Regions from separate parts of the Homo sapiens genome. Here all the other regions are linked to region 2. Evidence: fine-mapped expression QTL. A gene starts in region 2. Each other region holds a variant in brackets. All regions are shown on one strand. Distances are between the middles of the regions. Region 1 has its middle 160 kb from the start of TMEM38B. Region 2 holds the start of TMEM38B (transmembrane protein 38B). Region 3 overlaps TMEM38B (transmembrane protein 38B).

The links. PIP is the estimated chance that this variant, and not a neighbour inherited with it, causes the effect. A credible set is the group of variants that fine-mapping cannot tell apart.
Region 1: its variant is the best candidate, but not a certain one, in a credible set for the expression of TMEM38B in esophagus mucosa (GTEx, PIP 0.62).
Region 3: its variant is the best candidate, but not a certain one, in a credible set for the expression of TMEM38B in thyroid (GTEx, PIP 0.60).

Annotation. Positions count from the first base shown.
Region 1 is chr9:105,855,237-105,859,354 of GRCh38, reverse strand. No RefSeq gene overlaps it. Among named protein-coding and RNA genes, the nearest start is that of TMEM38B, 160 kb to the right of the region's middle. The variant T/C (reference allele first, on the strand shown) is at 2,259.
Region 2 is chr9:105,692,365-105,696,482 of GRCh38, reverse strand. It overlaps TMEM38B (transmembrane protein 38B), which reads right to left and starts at 1,942. Exons shown (of 6, transcript NM_018112.3): 1 at 1,711-1,942. The coding sequence starts at 1,822. RefSeq lists a silencer at 1,839-2,108.
Region 3 is chr9:105,728,630-105,732,747 of GRCh38, reverse strand. The region is part of intron 4 of TMEM38B (transmembrane protein 38B); the gene reads right to left. Among named protein-coding and RNA genes, the nearest start is that of TMEM38B, 36 kb to the right of the region's middle. The variant C/T (reference allele first, on the strand shown) is at 2,318.

The DNA of each region.
Region 1 (4,118 bases), 160 kb before region 2:
TTTTTTTATCACTTTCTCTTTCTCTCCACCTTTTCCTCACTTACCTCTCACATACACATGCATACCTCACAGACTCAAATTCTCTTCCAGTGGGATTTCTCTTTCTTGAAATAACACCTTCTTAACACTCACAACTTTTTAATCCACTCTTTTACACACTTTAATACTCTTAATGAACTCTGTCCTTCATTCTTGCATGTATACATATACATATTCACTACCATCACAGGCTGAGGCTCAGGTGGGGGAGGAGTGAGTCATACTCATTGATGTCTTGTTCACTGATGGCACACATGTTTCCTGTCACCATGACCAGCTTTTATCAATATGCCTTTTTCCTCCTTATTGCATGCTTATGGCCCACAGTGCACAGCAGGTATGACTTGAGTCCACCTAACAATCTTTCCATTCAATTCCTGCTCTTCACTGGTTTTCCTACAGATCCAATGGCTAAAAATGTGCTGGAAGAGACTCATACCAATCAAGGGGAAAACAGGGCCCATTACAGCATTAGCCATGGCTGTGTGTGCTTTGCTGAGCAGTAAGGGCATCTCAGCTCATGAATCAATATAGTACAAGTTTCTCCAAGGCTAGACTATTCCTGTCTGGTACATTTTCCTAATAAAACACCTCACACTGTGTCTTTGCTAAATGGCGATTGTGTTGATGTCTTAGAATTTTGGCTAAAGCTCAAAGCTGAAAGGTGGCCACAAGTGAGACCTGGATCTCTTAGTTCATCCTAAACAAGCTTTCAGAGTCAAAGTAAGAGTTTCTTTGTTGTCTGCCTGGCAGGAAATGTGTGGCATCCTCTTTTGCTCTCCATGGCAGGGTCATAGGGTGTGTACTTTGCCTCACCACAGCCCCCAGGGAGCTGCCTATGACTGCAGAGTGGAGAAGGACAGCCACAGTGCAAGCAAGCTCCACTTCCTCAGAAGGAAAGGCAGGGGTGTAGGTTTCCCTATGGGTTAAGGTAACTTCACCAAAAGTTGCTAAGCTGCAGTCATCTTGAAAAAACCCCTGCAAAGGAAGATTGCCCACAGACTGAAGAGATTTCAGTGGGAAGTCTGGAGATGTTTCCTCTGAGCAAGAGCTCAGGGAGGTAGAAGCAGATTATGACAGCCAGCTAGAGAATGTATCAACAACTTGGGAGAGCTGTGCAGTGTCAGAGATCTCTGGGAGGACCAGGAATGTGGCTTGAAGGACTCATAGAATCTCCTTGAGCATGTGGGCCATCACCACACACAAAGCATCAGGTCCCATTATGCCAGCAGTTGTCAAATAAGATCTCCTTCTCGCTTTTCCTCCTCACTTATCTAGAAGCAGTAAGTGAGTAGAGAGGAGGGAGCAAAAGCCAGGAGACAGAGTCAAAAACAGACCACATCTCCCTTCTCCAAGGCAGGAAGCTGAGCCTGGGTCTGTCCTAAGCTAGGCAGTAGAGGACAAATAGAATCTGGTAAAAGAGTGAAGTTTTAATTTAAATCATATTGAGCTTTTTAATACTCAAAAAATGAGACTATTCTAATGCCTGCTATTACAAAAAAAATCTTCTATCTTTTTTTGAAATGCTTTCTAGTAATAGAAAAGGGGTTCCCAACAGAACTGGTTTGAAGAGCAGTGGCAGTGGGGGTGTCAATAAAGTTATTCTTGGATTGTATTCTACCAAGTTCATTCAACATATAGGTAAGTTATACTTACAGTTCAGATGTGCTCAGATGTAAGGCATGCTAGAATCTTGGTGCAGGATGTGCAGGATGGGGGCAATTGTTAAATGTGGACTCTGAGCTGGGAGGAGAAAAACAACCAGAAGTGGGAACAGAGAGAAGGGTCTGGGGATGCTAACCTGTTTCCGGACAAGTATGTGGCCCCCAGCCCAGATCTGAAAGTCTGGTTCTCCACATACCTGTGTTGGGTATTCTGACTATTTGGGAGGATGACCCAACAGTAAGGTCCAAGATTCAGAGGCCAAAGAGCTCAGGAGCCAATAAGTGGTATACCTGGCTCTGGAAGGTCCCTGCCAATGGACAGGGGGCTGAGTACATTCCATCATGCAGGAGAGGGACAAAGGGAGTTAAATAGAATATCTGGGTTCCAACAAATTCACTGAGGTTCAGGAAGAGACATCCACCCAAAGATAAGAATGGAGAATTAGGAAGGTAACTAGTAAAGTACAAGGCAGGAACCAGTCCTGTGGTGTGAAAGGAGGCAGAAGGGCTGGTTAAGCAAGGAGACTCAGTTCCATGAGTTTGCTTCCCAGGAAC[T/C]GTTCCCCTATGACCCCCTCTCTGCTTAGCCCCGGCTGAGTTAAAATCTCTTCTTTGATTCTTATCTTACTGTCAAGCAATTTTCCCTTACTTTCCTATCTCCTTCACAGGGCCTAGAGGAGAACTTACCTGGGAGCAAGGATTCAGTAAATGTTTCATGAGTGAGTGAATCAATGGATGGATTAATGAATGAATGGATGGATAAAGAGCTACATAAGTGCCTTGGGCTAGCTCCTGGCAGTGCATACGTCCAAAGTTTGGTTAGCAATGAACAGGCTTTAGCAGGTAGGCTAGGGGAGGAAGGTGCCAGGGAACCTAGTGAGAAGTTGCTGGGGAAGGCAGAGGTCAGGGAAACAAGATGGCAGTGGATATTGTGCCCTTTCTGCAGTTTTCCACAACTGACCTTGGAGTGTTTGCAGTACAGAGGCCATCACAATGCAAGTATATCTTCTATATTAAATAAGTCATGAGCAGCCATTCATCAATGGTGCCAGGCACTGTGGCACTACAACTTGTAGGTAGAGAAACCACATCCAAAGGGGCATATGATCCAGCTCCTGCTGAATCCGTTCCCAATGAATCACAGCTACAGAAGAATAATGTCATTTGGGAACATATGCTAAGAACACCTTCCCAATAAAATTCTTTAAATTAAAAGGCAATGTTTAAATCAGGGTGAGCATATCAATATCAATGAGATGCAATTGATTCCAACTACCTGAGGGGGAAATCAGGCCCATATTACCATGCATAGCCATATTACTGCAGTAAGTCAAGCCGGACAGACAAAGGGAGAGTGGTCAGACACCACACCCCACACAATTTCAGATCTCTGAGCCCTATGCCAAGATTCTGCCAAACCGTATGGCATCCAAGAGATGGGAGTTAGATAGGAAAAGCATATGGCTAGGGTTGGAAAGGGAGGGGTGCAGTGGGGAGGAATTGCACAAGAAACAGACTTGCTTTTCCAGAGGAGGTCTGCTTCAGCATCAGACTGTTGAGGCAAAAATATGCTGTTTGAAACAAACAAAAAAAAATGTCCTTAGTATTGCCTTTTAACACCAGGAATTGTGCACTGAAGGGTGGGCCACAAACAGCTTATACCCTGCGCACTCACAAAGTGCAGACGTGCAGATGGGTGCACACAGGGAAAGTAACCCCAGGAGTCCAGACCCTCTTGGGTGCTGTCAGAGGCATCTGGCAGAAGTAACTTGATTACTTGATTCAAGACCCACATTACATGTTTTGCAAGTATAATTTTTTTATTATTTCTTTGGGGATAAAAAAAAAAGTACACACATAAAATTTTTAGCATATTTTTAGTGTGTTTGCCAACTGCTACATGGGGGAAGGGTGTCAGATTTGGATCTTTAAATTCTGTATTTTTAAAGTGGTCATAAGTATTTAAAAATTAAATAAAAGAAAAGAAAGCTATCACAGAAAGCTAAAAGGATATTACTACTTGGTGAGGAAAAGCCAATCTAGGAATTTCCGAAGTGGATGAATATGAAGCTTAGAGGGAACTGGGTCAAGCATTGCATATCCAAGCAACAGCCTGCCTTTCCATATTTAACATGAGACCAGGCCATAAATCTAACAATAGTTAGACACTGTGTGCCCAAGGGCATTCCTTGGTTCAATAAGATATGTGACATTGAGCAAGTCACCTTCTCTCAAAATTAATTAAGAGTCTTGGAAGACCTGCAATATGCCTGCTACTATGCTAAATTTCATAACCATGCACTTTTGAAAATCCTCACCACAGCTGCAAGGATGTAGAAATTATTATTCCCAAATTCTGAGTGAGAAAACTATGGCTCGGAAAAGTTTTATAACCTTCCCAGTGTCACACGGTGTCCT
Region 2 (4,118 bases):
AAACCCCGTCTCCACTACTAAAAATACAAAAATTAGCCGAACTTGGTGGCAGGCGCCTCCCAGCTACTCCGGAGGCTGAGGCAGGAGAATCGCTTAAACCCAGGAGGCACAGGTTGCAGCACTGAGCCGAGATCGCGCCACTGCACTTCAGCCTGGGCGACAGAGAGACTCCGTCTCAAAAATAATAATAATAATAATGATAATGTATTCTTTATGAAAAATAACTTTTCCAAAACAAAAAACATTTAGTGAGAAGAATCACACTGTGTACATTCTAACAAATGTCTGGCTTCAAATAGAAAACTGTTAGATTCTCATATCTACTTCCTTCTGTTACAGTATCACAACTCAGGTAGCCTCTGGAAAACTCCACTGTACACTTCTGAAAAAATGAGAGTGAAAAAGATAACATCTGCATATTATTACGAAAGTAATTTTAAACTGGCAGTGTCAGAGAATCCCATGGGTCCCTGGACCACAATGTGAACATCTGATTCAGCCTATACAAAAAAAAATTTTTTTAATCAAATTCTGAACATGTAGTAGCAACAAAACTTACTTTTTTCAAATCAAAGAAATAATATCTTATGCAGATAATGTGTTCTACTTTAATGCAGTAATACCATCCTCATCCAGGTCAAAATTTGTACCAACGATTTAAACTGAGCTACAAACTTCAACATAAATGAAAAATATTTCTGAGGTCTAAGGATTTTTTAAAACCAGTAAGTAGTCCATAAGAAAGATACAGCATCATCCTCCAGACCTCACTCATCAACTATCCGTAGGGCAAGGCAGATGAAAGACAGCAAGAACACAAAGAAAGTAGGCAAAGAAATGTCTGACCTCAAAGAAAGAAGAGGTCCATACAACTAAAAGCACAGTAGAATAACTACAAAAGTAAAGCAGTATTAGAGCAAACGCACCCTGGTGTAAAATCCAATAAAATACAACTACTGTCCCTTGATCGCATTGCTAAAAGAACTCAAAATGCTGTTTCAAGACTATATCCCCATTCTGCAGATAGTGAAACTACGCCAGGTAACTCTTGCTTGTACAGTGTCCGTCGTGACTGTGAAAAGGGGAACGCACTCGCTTCTCACATGCTAGGCAGGGTGTTAGGACACTGCGTGAAGGGGAATCCTGGTCTGGCTACAGGAGGCTTTTTGTTTCAGTGCTTGTACAACTTTCATAACTGGAGAGTAGTCCGCAACCATCTATTACTCCAAGAGACTGAGTCAGAAACCTGCTGTCTCCTCACATGACTTTCAAACACTGCGAGCGAGTGGCGACACTGCGAGCGAGTGGCGACACTGCGAGCGAGTGGCGGTACCGCGAGGAGGCCGCCCAAGCCCTGGGCTGGCGCGGATATCTGTGGTTCCGAAACGCTGCGGCAGCTTCTGTCAGTCCTGGGACTTCTGCGGGCGGTTGGCAAGGTCGGCCCTGCTCGCCCAGGCTACGGCCTCGCGGACCCCAGGTCACGCCTCCTTTGAGGAGTACTAGAGCCTCCGTCCTCCCCCACGCTGTTTCCCCATCTGCACTCAGTAAGTCAGACCAACCGGCCCTTGGCGCCCCTCCAACTCTACCATCGAACTGTCTGGGCTAGCGGCCACTCAGCCGCCCACCCGACCCACCCGACCCACCCGACTTAGACGGTCCTCGCCGTCAGGAGCACTCTGAGGGGTCCGGCCCGCGGCGCCCCGCACTCACCCGGCTGACGTTTCACCGCCATCACTGACACTAGATAGTGCGCGATGTCAAAAAAGGGAAACATGGACGTGCGGGAGAAGGCCAGAGCCAACTCGTCCCATGGAGAATCCATAACGACCACCGACCGCGGCAACCGAAGCAGCCGCGGCTACTGGTTCCCCGCGCTCGCGCGGTGAGGAGTAGGAGAGGGCACAGCCGCGGCCGCCCGCTCCTCCGCGCCGGCTCCAGCTCCGCGCGTGCGCCCTGGCGCCGAGGGGGCGGGGCCGCGCTTCGCGGGAGCCGCAGGCTCACCGGCGCTAGGCGGGTGGGCGGGGCGAGCGGGTTCCCCGCGGCTCCAGCCGGCTCTTGCCTCGGTTCTCCTAGTAAGGGTCCAGCGTCTTCTTGGTCCTGGGCGCAGTGCAGGACCTGGAGAGCGTGCAGATGAACAAAACACGGTCCTCAAGGGGAGACGCTCAGAGTTGGATTTATTTCTGTAAATTGATGTCATTCACCTAACATTTATCGAGCAACCACAGTGCAAGTCACACTGTGACTTACTGGAGATATAAAAATAAAACAATAATATCCTGACCTCAAGAACTATGCGTTCCCTGAAAGAGATTTTTTATAAAAAGAGAAAAAACGCACATAATGGTACAAAAGCAGGTACTGAGAAGTATAGCTGCCGTGCGAGAGCAGTTCGAAACGAAGATTACAATTCTGGGAAGTGAGTAAAGTGACATGTGAGCTGGACTTTAAAAGTTAAGTGAGAAACACAAGCTAGGTGGGAGATGGAGGGAGGTGTTTTGGGTTGACTACAAAGTGAGAAATGAGGTTGGGAAAAGTCCTCGAATGGCAGACAAAGCCAGGCAGTTTGGCTCCAGAGGTTAAATTCTTGATCAATCACTATGTTAAGCTCAGAGCCAGAATCTCTTCTCCTAATCTCTACGCTAACTGGGTTGTTTGGTGGAAGGTGAGGGAGTAGAGGTGCAACGAAGCAACAAGATTAAGAATAGATTGATGAGAAGCGACTGACAACGGAAAATCAGAGGGTATTCACTGGTCCAAGCAAAAGGTAGTGGAGGCTGTGGCAGCAGAAATTGAGACCAATTGTGGGAAACATGGGTAGAAGCAGAATATCGTCAGTGAGTGTCAGTCTGTACAGGCGGGAAAGGAAGCATTTGTCAAATAAAATGAGGAACGGGTGAGTAGGAGGATTGTGGTTGCATTCTGATAAATAGGAAACAAGAAGGAATAGGTTTGGGTAAGAAAAAAAACTAGCTTGGCACACTTATTTGATGTGTGAACAGATTATGCTGGCACCAGGAAATTGGAGAAACGTGATTAGCTGCTAGGTAGGTGACAGCTTCACGGGTGTATGCACTGCAAAAGGAGAATTTTTTTTATCTGAATATGTATTCATTAATTTTAATTCATTTAACAAAATGTTTTTTGCGTGCCTACTATGTAACCAGCATTTTGCTGGATGTCAGAAATACTGCCCTAAACACTAAGTGTTTAAAACGTAGGAAAATTGTAGTAAATCTCTACACTTCATTACTTATCAAGAAAGAATAGACTTGTTCAAATACTTTTCACGTGTGGTTTTCTAAGCAAGCACTTCCCGTAGAGAAAAGTCTTTAGACCTGTAGCACACTTTCTAGCAAAACTAAGGGGAAAAAAACCACCTGTGAATATTTATACTTTCCTGTTTAAGTCTGTTCTTTCCATACTTTTTACACATTCGCTTATTTTTGGAATTTTAGTTTTGCGAATTTAGGCTCAGAGTTTGGATATTACTTCTTTTTTTTCTTTTCTTGTTTTTTTTTTTTTTTTTTTTTTTTTTTTTTGATATGTAATCTTGCTCTGTTGCCAGACGAGTGCAGTGGCGCGATCTCGGCTCACTGCAACCCCCAACTCGCTGATTCAAGCGATTCTCCTGCCTCAGCCTCCCGAGTAGCTGGGATTAAAGGCACGTGCCACCACGTTTTTTTTGTATTTTTAGTACAGACGGGGTTTCACCATGTTGGCCAGGATGGTTTGGAACTCCTGACCTCATGATCCGCCCGCCTTGGCCTCCCAAAGTGCTGGGATTACAGGCGTGAGCCACTCACACCCAGCCTGGATATTATTTCTTTAAATATTTTACATTTTAACAGTCTTAAATTTTGCAAAATATATGGTTAGTCTTTGGACTTAAAAAAATATATGATGTAATCTTTAAGACACTACTGAATTGTGTGTCTATACCAGTATTATTCTGGGGTACCATTAAATCCATTATTAACATCAATAAGGCAAAATGAATAACATCAGAGGTTTTTTTAAGGAAGTAAATCAAGCACTTTACTTGCTTAAACAGAATAATTCCAATAGAAAGGAATTAATTATCTCAGACTCTAAAGATAATTTGAAAATTGTTGCATTTC
Region 3 (4,118 bases), 36 kb before region 2:
GCATCACGCTACCTGACTTCAAACTATACTACAAGGCTACAGTAACCAAAATAGCATGGTACTGGTACCAAAACAGAGATACAGACCAATGGAACAGAACAGAGGCCTCAGAAATAACACCACACATATAAAACCATCTGATCTTTGACAAATCTGAGAAAAACAAGAAATGGGGAAAGGATTCCCTATTTAATAAATGGTGCTGGGAAAACTGGCTAGCCACATGTAGAAAACAGAAACTGCATCCCTTCCTTACACCTTATACAAAAATTAATTCAAGATGGATTAAAGACTGAAATGTTAGACCTAAAACCATAAAATCCCTGGAAGAAAACCTAGGCAATACCATTCAGGACAAAGGCATGGGCAAAGACTTCATGACTAAAACACCAAAAGCAATGGCAACAAAAGCCAAAATTGACAAATGGGATCTAATTAAACTCAAGAGCTTCTGCACAGCAAAAGAAACTACCATCAGAGTGAACAGGCAACCTACAGAATGGGAGAAAATTTTTGCAATCTACCCATCTGACAAAGTGCTAATATCCAGAATCTACAAAGAACTTAAACAAATTTACAAGAAAAAAATCAAACAACCCCATCGAAAAGTGGGTGAAGGATATGAACAGACACTTCTCAAAAGAAGACTTTTTTGCAGCCAACAGACATATGAAAAAATGCTCATCACTACTGGTCATGAGAGAAATGCAAATCAAAAACACAATGAGATACCATCTCATGCCAGTTAGAATGGTGATCATTAAAAAGTCAGGAAACAACAGGTGCTGGAGAGGATGTGGAGAAATAGGAACACTTTTACACTGTTGGTGGGACTGTAAACTAGTTCAACCATTGTGGAAGACAGTGTGGCGATTCCTCAGGGATCTAGAACTAGAAATACCATTTAACCCAGCGATCCCATTACTGGGTATATACCTAAAGGATTATAAATCATGCTGCTATAAAGACACATACACACGTATGTTTATTGCTGCACTAATCACAATAGCAAAGACTTGGAACCAACCCAAATATCCAACAATGATAGACTGGATTAAGAAAATGTGGCACATATACACCATGGAATACTATGCAGCCATAAAAAAGGATGAGTTCATGTCCTTTGTAGGGCCATGGATGAAGCTAGAAACCATCATCCTGAGCAAACTATCACAAGGACAGAAAACCAAACACTACATGTTCTCACTCATAAGTGGAAGTTGAACAATGAGAACACTTGGACACAGGGTGGGGAACCTCACAGACCAGGGCCTGTCGTGGGGTGAGAGGGAGGGGGAAGGGATAGCATTAAGAGAAATACCTAATATAAATGACGAGTTAATGGGTGCAGCACACCAACATGACACATGTATACATATGTAACAAACCTGCACTTTGTGCGCATGTACCCTAGAACTTAAAGTATAATAATAATAATAATAATAATAATAAAGATGTTCTTTGAAACCAATGAGAACAAAGCTACAACGTACCAGAATCTCTGGGGCACATTTAAAGTGGTGTGTAGAGGGAAATTTATAGCACTAAATGCCCACAAGAGAAAGCAGGAAAGACCTAAAATCAACACCCTAAGATCACAATTAAAAGAATTAGAGAAGCAAGAGCAAACACATTCAAAAGCTAGCAGAAGGCAAGAAATAACTAAGATCAATGCAGAACTGAAGGAGATAGAGACACAAAAAACCCTTCAAAAAATCAATGAATCCAGGAGCTGGTTTTTTGAAAAGATAACAAAATAGATAGATGGCTAGCAAGACTAATAAAGAAGAAAAGAGAGAAGAATCAAATAGACGCAATAAAAAATGATAAAGGGGATACCAACACCGATCCCACAGAAATACAAATTACCATCAGAGAATACTATAAACACCTCTACTCAAATAAACTAGAAAATCTAGCAGAAATGGATAAATTCCTGGACACATACACCCTCCCAAGACTAAACCAGGAAGAAGTTGAATCTCTGAATAGACCAATAACAGGCTCTGAAATTGAGGCAATAATTAATAGCTTACCAACCAAAAAAAGTCCAGGACCAGATGGATTCACAGCCAAATTCTACAGGAGGTATAAAGAGGAGCTAGTACCATTCCTTCTGAAACTATTCTAATCAACAGAAAAAGAGGGAATCCTCCCTAACTCATTTTATGAGGCCAGCATCATCCTGATACCAAAGCCTGGCAACAACGAATAAAGAGAATTTTAGGCCAATATCCCTGATGAACATGGATGGAAAAATCCTCAATAAAATACTGGCAAACCAAATCCAGCAGCACATCAAAAAGTTTATCCACCA[C/T]GATCAAGTTGGCTTCATCCTTGGGATGCAAGGCTGGTTCAACATACGCAAATCAATAAACGTAATCCAAACAGGACCAACGAAAAAACCACATGATTATCTCAATAGATGCAGAAAAGGCCTTCAAAAAAATTCAACAGCCTTTCATGCTAAAAACTCTCAATAAACTAGGTATTGCTGAAACGTATCTCAAAATAATAAGAGCTATTTATGACAAACCCACAGCCAGTATCATACTGAATGGGCAAAAACTGGACGCATTCCCTTTGAAAACCGGCACAAGACAAGGATGCCCTCTCTCACCACTCCTATTCAACATAGTATTGGAAGGTCTGGCCAGGGCAAAAAGGAAAGAGAAAGAAATAAAGCGTATTCAAATAGGAAGAGAGGAATTCAAATTGTCTCTGTTTTCAGATGACATGATTGTATATTTAGAAAACCCCATCGTCTCAGCCTAAAATCTCCTTAAACTGATAAGCAACTTCAGCAAATTTTCAGGATACAAAATCAATGTGCAAAAATCACAAGCATTCCTGTACACCAAGAACAGACCGAGAGCCAAATCATGAGTGAACTCCCATTCACAATTACTACAAAGAGAATAAAATACCTAGGAATCCAACTTACAAGGGATGTGAAGGACCTCTTCAAGGAGAACTACAAACCACTGCTCAACAAAATAAAAGAGGACACAAACAAATGAAAGAACATTCCTTGCTCATGGGTAGGAAGAATCAATATTGTGAAAATGGCCATACTGCCCAAGGTAATTTATAGAGTCAATGACATCCCCATCAAGCTACCAATGACTTTCTTCACAGAATTGGAAAAAACTACTTTAAAGTTTATATGGAAACAAAAAAGAGCCTGCAGAGCCAAGAAAACCCTAAGCAAAAAGAACAAAGCTGGAGGCATCACGCTACCTGACTTCAAACTATACTACAAGGCTACAGTAACCAAAATAGCATGGTACTGGTACCAAAACAGAGATGTAGACCAATGGAACAGAACAGAGACCTTAGAGATAACACTACACAGCTACAACCATCTGATCTTTGACAAACCTGAGAAAAACAAGCAATGGAGAAAGGATTCCCTATTTAATAAATGGTGCTGGGAAAACTGACTAGCCATATGTAGAAAGCTGAAACCGGATCCCTTCCTTACACCTTATACAAAAATTAATTCAAGATGGATTAAAGACTGAAATGTTAGACCTAAAACCATAAAATCCCTGGAAGAAAACCTAGGCAATGCCATTCAGGACATAGGCATGGGCAAAGACTTCATGACTAAAACACCAAAAGCAATGGCAACAAAAGCCAAAATTGACAAATGGGATCTAATTAAACTAAAGAGCTTCTGCACAGCAAAAGCAACTACCATCAGAGTGAACAGGCAACCTACAGAACGGGAGAAAATTTTTGCAATCTACTCATCTGACAAAGTGCTAATATCCAGAATCTACAAAGAACTTAAACAAATTTACAAGAAAAAAATCAAACAACTCCATCAAAAAGTGGGCAAAGGATATGAACAGACCCTTCTCAAAAGAAGACATTAATGCAGCCAACAGACATATGAAAAAATGTTCATTATCACTGGTCATGAGAGAAATGCAAATCAAAACCACAATGAGATACCATCTCACGCCAGTCAGAAGGGCGATCATTAAAAAGTCAAGAAACAACAGATGCTGGAGAGGATGTGGAGAAATAGGAACACTGTTGGTGGGAGTGTAAATTAGTTCAACCATTGTGGAAGACAGTGGTGATTCCTCAAGGATCTAGAACTAGAAATA